Regions from separate parts of the Homo sapiens genome. Here region 2 is linked to region 1. A link means that fine-mapping ties the variant in region 1 to the expression of a gene that starts in the linked region. Tissue or cell type: cerebral cortex. Region 1 holds a variant in brackets; the other region holds the start of a gene. All regions are shown on one strand. Distances are from middle to middle. Region 1 overlaps LINC02714 (long intergenic non-protein coding RNA 2714). Region 2 holds the start of LINC02714 (long intergenic non-protein coding RNA 2714).

What was found. PIP is the estimated chance that this variant, and not a neighbour inherited with it, causes the effect.
Region 2: LINC02714 starts here. The variant in region 1 is fine-mapped to the expression of LINC02714 in cerebral cortex (GTEx, PIP above 0.99). The same link has a PIP of 0.9 or more in anterior cingulate cortex and prefrontal cortex.

Annotation. Positions count from the first base shown.
Region 1 is chr11:134,739,870-134,742,771 of GRCh38, forward strand. The region is part of intron 1 of LINC02714 (long intergenic non-protein coding RNA 2714); the gene reads left to right. Among named protein-coding and RNA genes, the nearest start is that of LINC02714, 5.4 kb to the left of the region's middle. The variant T/A (reference allele first, on the strand shown) is at 1,654.
Region 2 is chr11:134,734,618-134,737,519 of GRCh38, forward strand. It overlaps LINC02714 (long intergenic non-protein coding RNA 2714), which reads left to right and starts at 1,328. Exons shown (of 2, transcript NR_147836.1): 1 at 1,328-1,925.

The DNA.
Region 1 (2,902 bases):
TATGTTTGGTGTGTAGTGTGCATGTGGTGTGCGAGGTATGTGGTGCGTGTGGTGTGTAGTGTGTGTAGTTTGTGTGGTGTGTATTTGTTGTGTTTGATGTGTGTGGTGTGGATGTGTGGTTGTGTGGTGTGTGGTGTATTTGGTGTGTGTGTGGTGTCAATGGTGTTTATAGTATGTGTTTGGTGTGTGCGGTGTGTGTATGTGGTGTTTGTGGGTTGTGTGTGGTATGTAGTGTGTGTGGGTGTGGTGTGTGGTGTGTGGTATGTGTGATGCATGGTGCGTGTGGGTTGTGTGTGGTGTGTAGTGTGTAGCGTGTGTGATGTGGGGGGGTGTAGTGTGTGTGGTGTGTGGTATGTGTGATGCATGGTGTGTGTAGTGTGTATGGTGTATGTGGGGTGTAGTGTGTGTGGAATGTGTGACGCATGATGTGGGTGGGTTGTGTGTAGTGTGTGTGGTGTGTGTGGAGTGTAGTGTGTGTGGTGTGTGTGATGCATGGTGTGTGTGGGTTGTGTGTGGTGTGTAGTGTGTAGCGTGTGTGATGTGGGGGGTGTAGTGTGTGTGGTGTGTGTAGTGTGTGGTGTGTGTAGTGTGTAGTGTGTATGGTGTATGTGGGGTGTAGTGTGTGTGGTGTGTGTGATGCATGATGTGGGTGGGTTGTGTGTAGTGTGTAGTGTGTGTGGGTGTGGTGTGTGGTGTGTGGTATGTGTGATGCATGGTGCATGTGGGTTGTGTGTGGTGTGTGGTGTGTAGCGTGTATGATGTGGGGGGGTGTAGTGTGTGTGGTGTGTGGTATGTGTGATGCATGGTGTGTGTAGTGTGTAGTGTGTATGGTGTATGTGGGGTGTAGTGTGTGTGGTATGTGTGATGCATGATGTGGGTGGGTTGTGTGTAGTGTGTAGTGTGTGGTGTGTGTGTGGTGTGTGTGATGCATGGTGTGTGTGGGTTGTGTGTGGTGTGTAGTGTGTGTACAGTGTGTGGTATGGAGGTGCTGCCGTGTGGTGCATGTGGTGTGTCTGCTGCATGTGTGTCTGGTGTGTGTGTCTGTGTTGTGCTGTGTGTGGTGCATGTGTGGACGGCTTTTGAGCGTGGTTGTCTGTGTGAGCATGTTTGAAGACACGTATGAGGGTCATGGAAGGCACCTTTGCACCGTGGCCTTGACAGGGACTAGGACGAGGAGGACTCAGAACAATGTCAGTGGTACCTTCAGAAAATCCTTTTACCACTGACTCTTTATGGCATCAATAAAACGGTGATAAAAGTCACACGTGCCTCAAGGGTGGTGCTGGAGATTAAAGGATGTAGGATGCATAAACCCTGCCATCCTATGATGGGGAAATTGTCTTCTCTGTTGGGCCTTTTCTCCCCTGTGTTTGGAGCATTTTAGTTTCCCCCATAACTCCTTGCTTGCCTGCAGATCATCATGCTTCAGCTCCTTTCTAACATAAATGCTCTTATGAATTGTGCTGCTATAAACACGTGAGTGCAAGCGTCTTTTTTGAATATTGAGTTATTTTCCTCTGGGTAGGTACCCCGTAGTGGGATTGCTGGATCTAAGGGTAGTTCCACTTTCAATTCTTTAAGGAATCTCCACACTGTTTTCCATAGTGGCTGTTTTAGTTTACATTCCCACCAGCAGTGGAGAAGTGTTCCCTG[T/A]TCAATGCATCCACACCAGCATCTACCGTTTTTTAATGTTTTGATTATGGGCTTTCTTGCAGGAGCCGGGTGGCATCACGTTGTGGTTTTGATTTGCATTTCCCTGGGGGGAGGAGAGGAGGGGGCGAGGCATAAAAGACTACAAATATGGTGCGGCATATACTGCTTGGGTGATGAGTGCACGAAAATCTCACAAATCACCAGTAAAGAACTTACTCATGTAACCAAATACCACCTGTGCCCCTAATAACTTATGGAAAAATAAAAAAATAAATAAAATAGATGCTCTTAGAAGCACCCAGAGGAATCCTTACCTCCTGTTTGACAACCCACCCTCTCTGGCCACAGAGGAGGGACAGGTCAGGCCGGAGTAGTGTGTGCTGTACTCAACGCTGCCTGCAACCCTGAGGACTGATGTAAGTCTTCCAAATTCAACACGCAAGCTCTGCCTCCAGTTCAGATCAGCTTTTAAAAGGGGCGGACAATGTCTTATCTAGAGGGAAATTCCACAGATGCTTGTTCTATTTCCAGGTCTTGCCATACCAGGGTGGGATGAGAATATTTGTTTATTTTACTTCTGAAGAGATCATTTTTATTTAGGATATGTGATAAAAAGGCTGCTTGAAAATGCCACATCCCAGAGGCAAGAAATACCATGTGGGCCTTGGAATCAGAAAGTGCTGGATTTGACATTCCACCATCAACTAGTGGTTTGTTTGTTTTTAAAATTTGGTAAAATACACATAACAGAATATTTACCATCCTAGCCATTTTTAGGTACATAGTTCAGTAGCGTTAAGTACATTCACGTTGTTGTGTAGCCAGCAGTGAGGTTTTTAACCTCTGAGATGTTAACTCTCTGAGCTCATCACCACCATCGTCATCCTCTCCGGCAATGCTAAATATGGAGGCTCCTAGTGCCAGGAGTGAAGCTTGCTGAGATCTGGTGTCAGAAAGAAACCACTAACATCCTTGAAGCTCTAAACGCGTGCCTCCTAGGCTCACAGCCTTACCACATGCCAGTCTCATCTCAGAGGCACTGGGGTCTGTGGCTTCCAAAGGTTTATTACATATGACTTTTTAAAAACACTCAAGCATCTGTGCACAAATATGTTAAATTATTTTCGCATGACAGGTGCTGGGGAAACAGATGTATATGATATTGTTCTGTTAACCTAAAATAATCAAAAATACCAGAATCCAGTTTAAAGCTTTTATGCAAGTGAAAAGCTAGGGATGGGAGACAAAG
Region 2 (2,902 bases), 5.3 kb before region 1:
CTCAGATGGAACGGAGCTGGCTGCCTCTGTTCCAAGAAGCCTGCGGCTGAGTGCGGGCTTGACATGAGATATTTATCATCTCAGGATGTCTTCGCTCAGATCGCTGGCTCTCCACCCCCAGACTTCTTTATCTTATTTTGCTAAACAAGATGAGTTTCTGTCATTGCTGGAAGTAATTGCCTTGTTTTTTAATATATATCAAGGCCCAGGTTAACAACTGGACAATGCAATGCATTTGTTATTCCCTCTCTCTCCTGTTTATTCTAGTGTGAAATTGTTTTCCAGGTAGTGATTAATTCTGCCAAAGCTTCCTGCCCTTGCTGGGTAATTTGCTGTATTTGGGAAGAAGATGCTAACTGCGCGGCTCTGCCATCAGAGGTGTCGTTACTGTTTTGTCAAACACTAGCTCCTCCATTGTCTTCTGCCAATCAGCCAAGCCTGTGGTCCTTTATTCATTTCCTGTTTCTGAGTTTTCTGTGGGGAGGACTGAAGCTGAGTCTTCGGGGGAGACTGTGTCAGGAGGCTGGGGTGGGCTGGAGAGGGCCCCCCAGCGGTGGCTCCAAAGCATCTCCGCAGCGATGGAGAACTGGGGTTCGTGGGCAGAGTGGTGAGCGACGGAGAACTGGGGTTCGTGGGCAGAGTGGTGAGCGACGGAGAACTGGGGTTCGTGGGCAGAGTGGTGAGCGACGCAGAGCTGGGGTTCATGGGCAGAGTGGTGAGCGACGGAGAACTGGGGTTCGTGGGCAGAGTGGTGAGCGACGGAGAGCTGGGGTTCATGGGCAGAGTGGTGAGCGACGGAGAACTGGGGTTCGTGGGCAGAGTGGTGAGCGACGGAGAGCTGGGGTTCGTGGGCAGAGTGGTGAGCGACGCAGAGCTGGGGTTCGTGGGCAGAGTGGTGAGCGACGGAGAACTGGGGTTCGTGAGCAGAGTGGTGAGCGACGGAGAGCTGGGGTTCATGGGCAGAGTGGTGAGCGACGGAGAACTGGGGTTCGTGGGCAGAGTGGTGAGCGACGGAGAACTGGGGTTCGTGGGCAGAGTGGTGAGCGACGGAGAACTGGGGTTCGTGGGCAGAGTGGTGAGTGACGGAGAACTGGGGTTCGTGAGCAGAGTGGTGAGCGACGCAGAGCTGGGGTTCATGGGCAGAGTGGTGAGCGACGGAGAACTGGGGTTCGTGGGCAGAGTGGTGAGCGACGCAGAGCTGGGGTTCGTGGGCAGAGTGGTGAGCGACGGAGAACTGGGGTTCGTGGGCAGAGTGGTGAGCGACGCAGAGCTGGGGTTCATGGGCAGAGTGGTGAGCGACGGAGAACTGGGGTTCGTGGGCAGAGTGGTGAGCGACGGAGAACTGGGGTTCGTGGGCAGAGTGGTTGGCTGCCCCACTGTCAGCCTGTTCTGAAAGTAGGAATGACCCTCAGCTGAGCTGAGATGTTGCTGGTGGAGACTCTAAGACTGTGGATTCTGACTCCCTGGGCTCAGGAAGGACGGTGCTGGGAACAAGGTGCAGACAAGGCACGACGAAGCTGGAGTGCCTCATACCACCCCCATGAAAGCGACGAAGGACTCCCAGAACCATTCCTGGGGGCCCGTGGGAACGAGGACTTTGGGGGCACAAGGACGAGCTGAAGAAGTCTTCCTGATTGTGGTTGTCAGAGGGAGGACATGGCATCGTGGTGGGCCAGAGTATCGGCCTCAACACCACCCACTTTTCAGGCTGCAGTCTCCACCGTGGCCGCTGTGTGCATTGGAGGGCACTTGGCAGCATCCCCAGCCTCCCCACTAGAAAACCAGATGCCAGGAGCATATGCGCCCCTCCTCAAGGTGCAACCACCAGAAACGACGCCAGACATTGCCAAATGTCCCTTGAGGGTGGGGACAAATGCCCCTCATCCCCCTTGAGGACTGCAGCTGGAACTCAATGAAGAGCAGCGGTAAGTGTCTCTTGAAGGGTCTGTCCACGGCCATCCGGGTGGCTTCATGGTACACGGGAGCCCATGTGGGATCCTGAAGTCAGAGTCCAGGACTGGGCCTTGGCTCAGTTATCAGCTGCAAGGTCTTGGAGAAAATCATTAACGGAGCTGCACAGTTTTCTGGGGAGTGGAAAGGCTGTGGAAACGGCAGTGAGCCATGGAATCACAGGATAAACAAGAAAAAGGGCACTTCCCCCTCTCCCTCCCTCCCCTGTGTGGACTCCAGCAGAAGGCTCCTGGGAATGTGTCCTCTGTCCTCAGTGCTCAGTTACATGAGCGGCACCTCCACTCTCCCCAGATGGTGTCCTGTTCTGTGCTGAGCTCTGCACTGAGAGTTCTGCCCTGAGGTCATCCCTTCACATCCCAGGCTGGTGCTGGCATGGGCCTGTCCCTGGGCTCTGCCTGGCTCCTGTACCTGCCCCTCCACGAGAGGCCACTCCATCTCCTCCCCAGGCCCCTCCACCTGGCACAGACACCCTCTGCCCCTGTGAGACTTTGCCCCTCTCTGCCTGCGTCCCTGTCACCACTCCTCCATCAGCACAACCACAGCACCTGTGGGATCTCCTGGGAGGGACAGGAGGCACAGGCAGTCATCACCTGTGGGATCTCCTGGGAGGGACAGGAGGCACAGGCGGTCATCACCTGTGGGATCTCCTGGGAGGGACAGGAGGCACAGGCGGTCATCACCTGTGGGATCTCCTGGGAGGGACAGGAGGCACAGGCGGTCATCACCTGTGGGATCTCCTGGGAGGGACAGGAGGCACAGGCGGTCATCACCTGTGGGATCTCCTGGGAGGGACAGGAGGCACAGGCGGTCATCACCTGTGGGATCTCCTGGGAGGGACAGGAGGCACAGGCGGTCATCACCTGTGGGATCTCCTGGGAGGGACAGGAGGCACAGGCGGTCATCACCTGTGGGATCTCCTGGGAGGGACAGG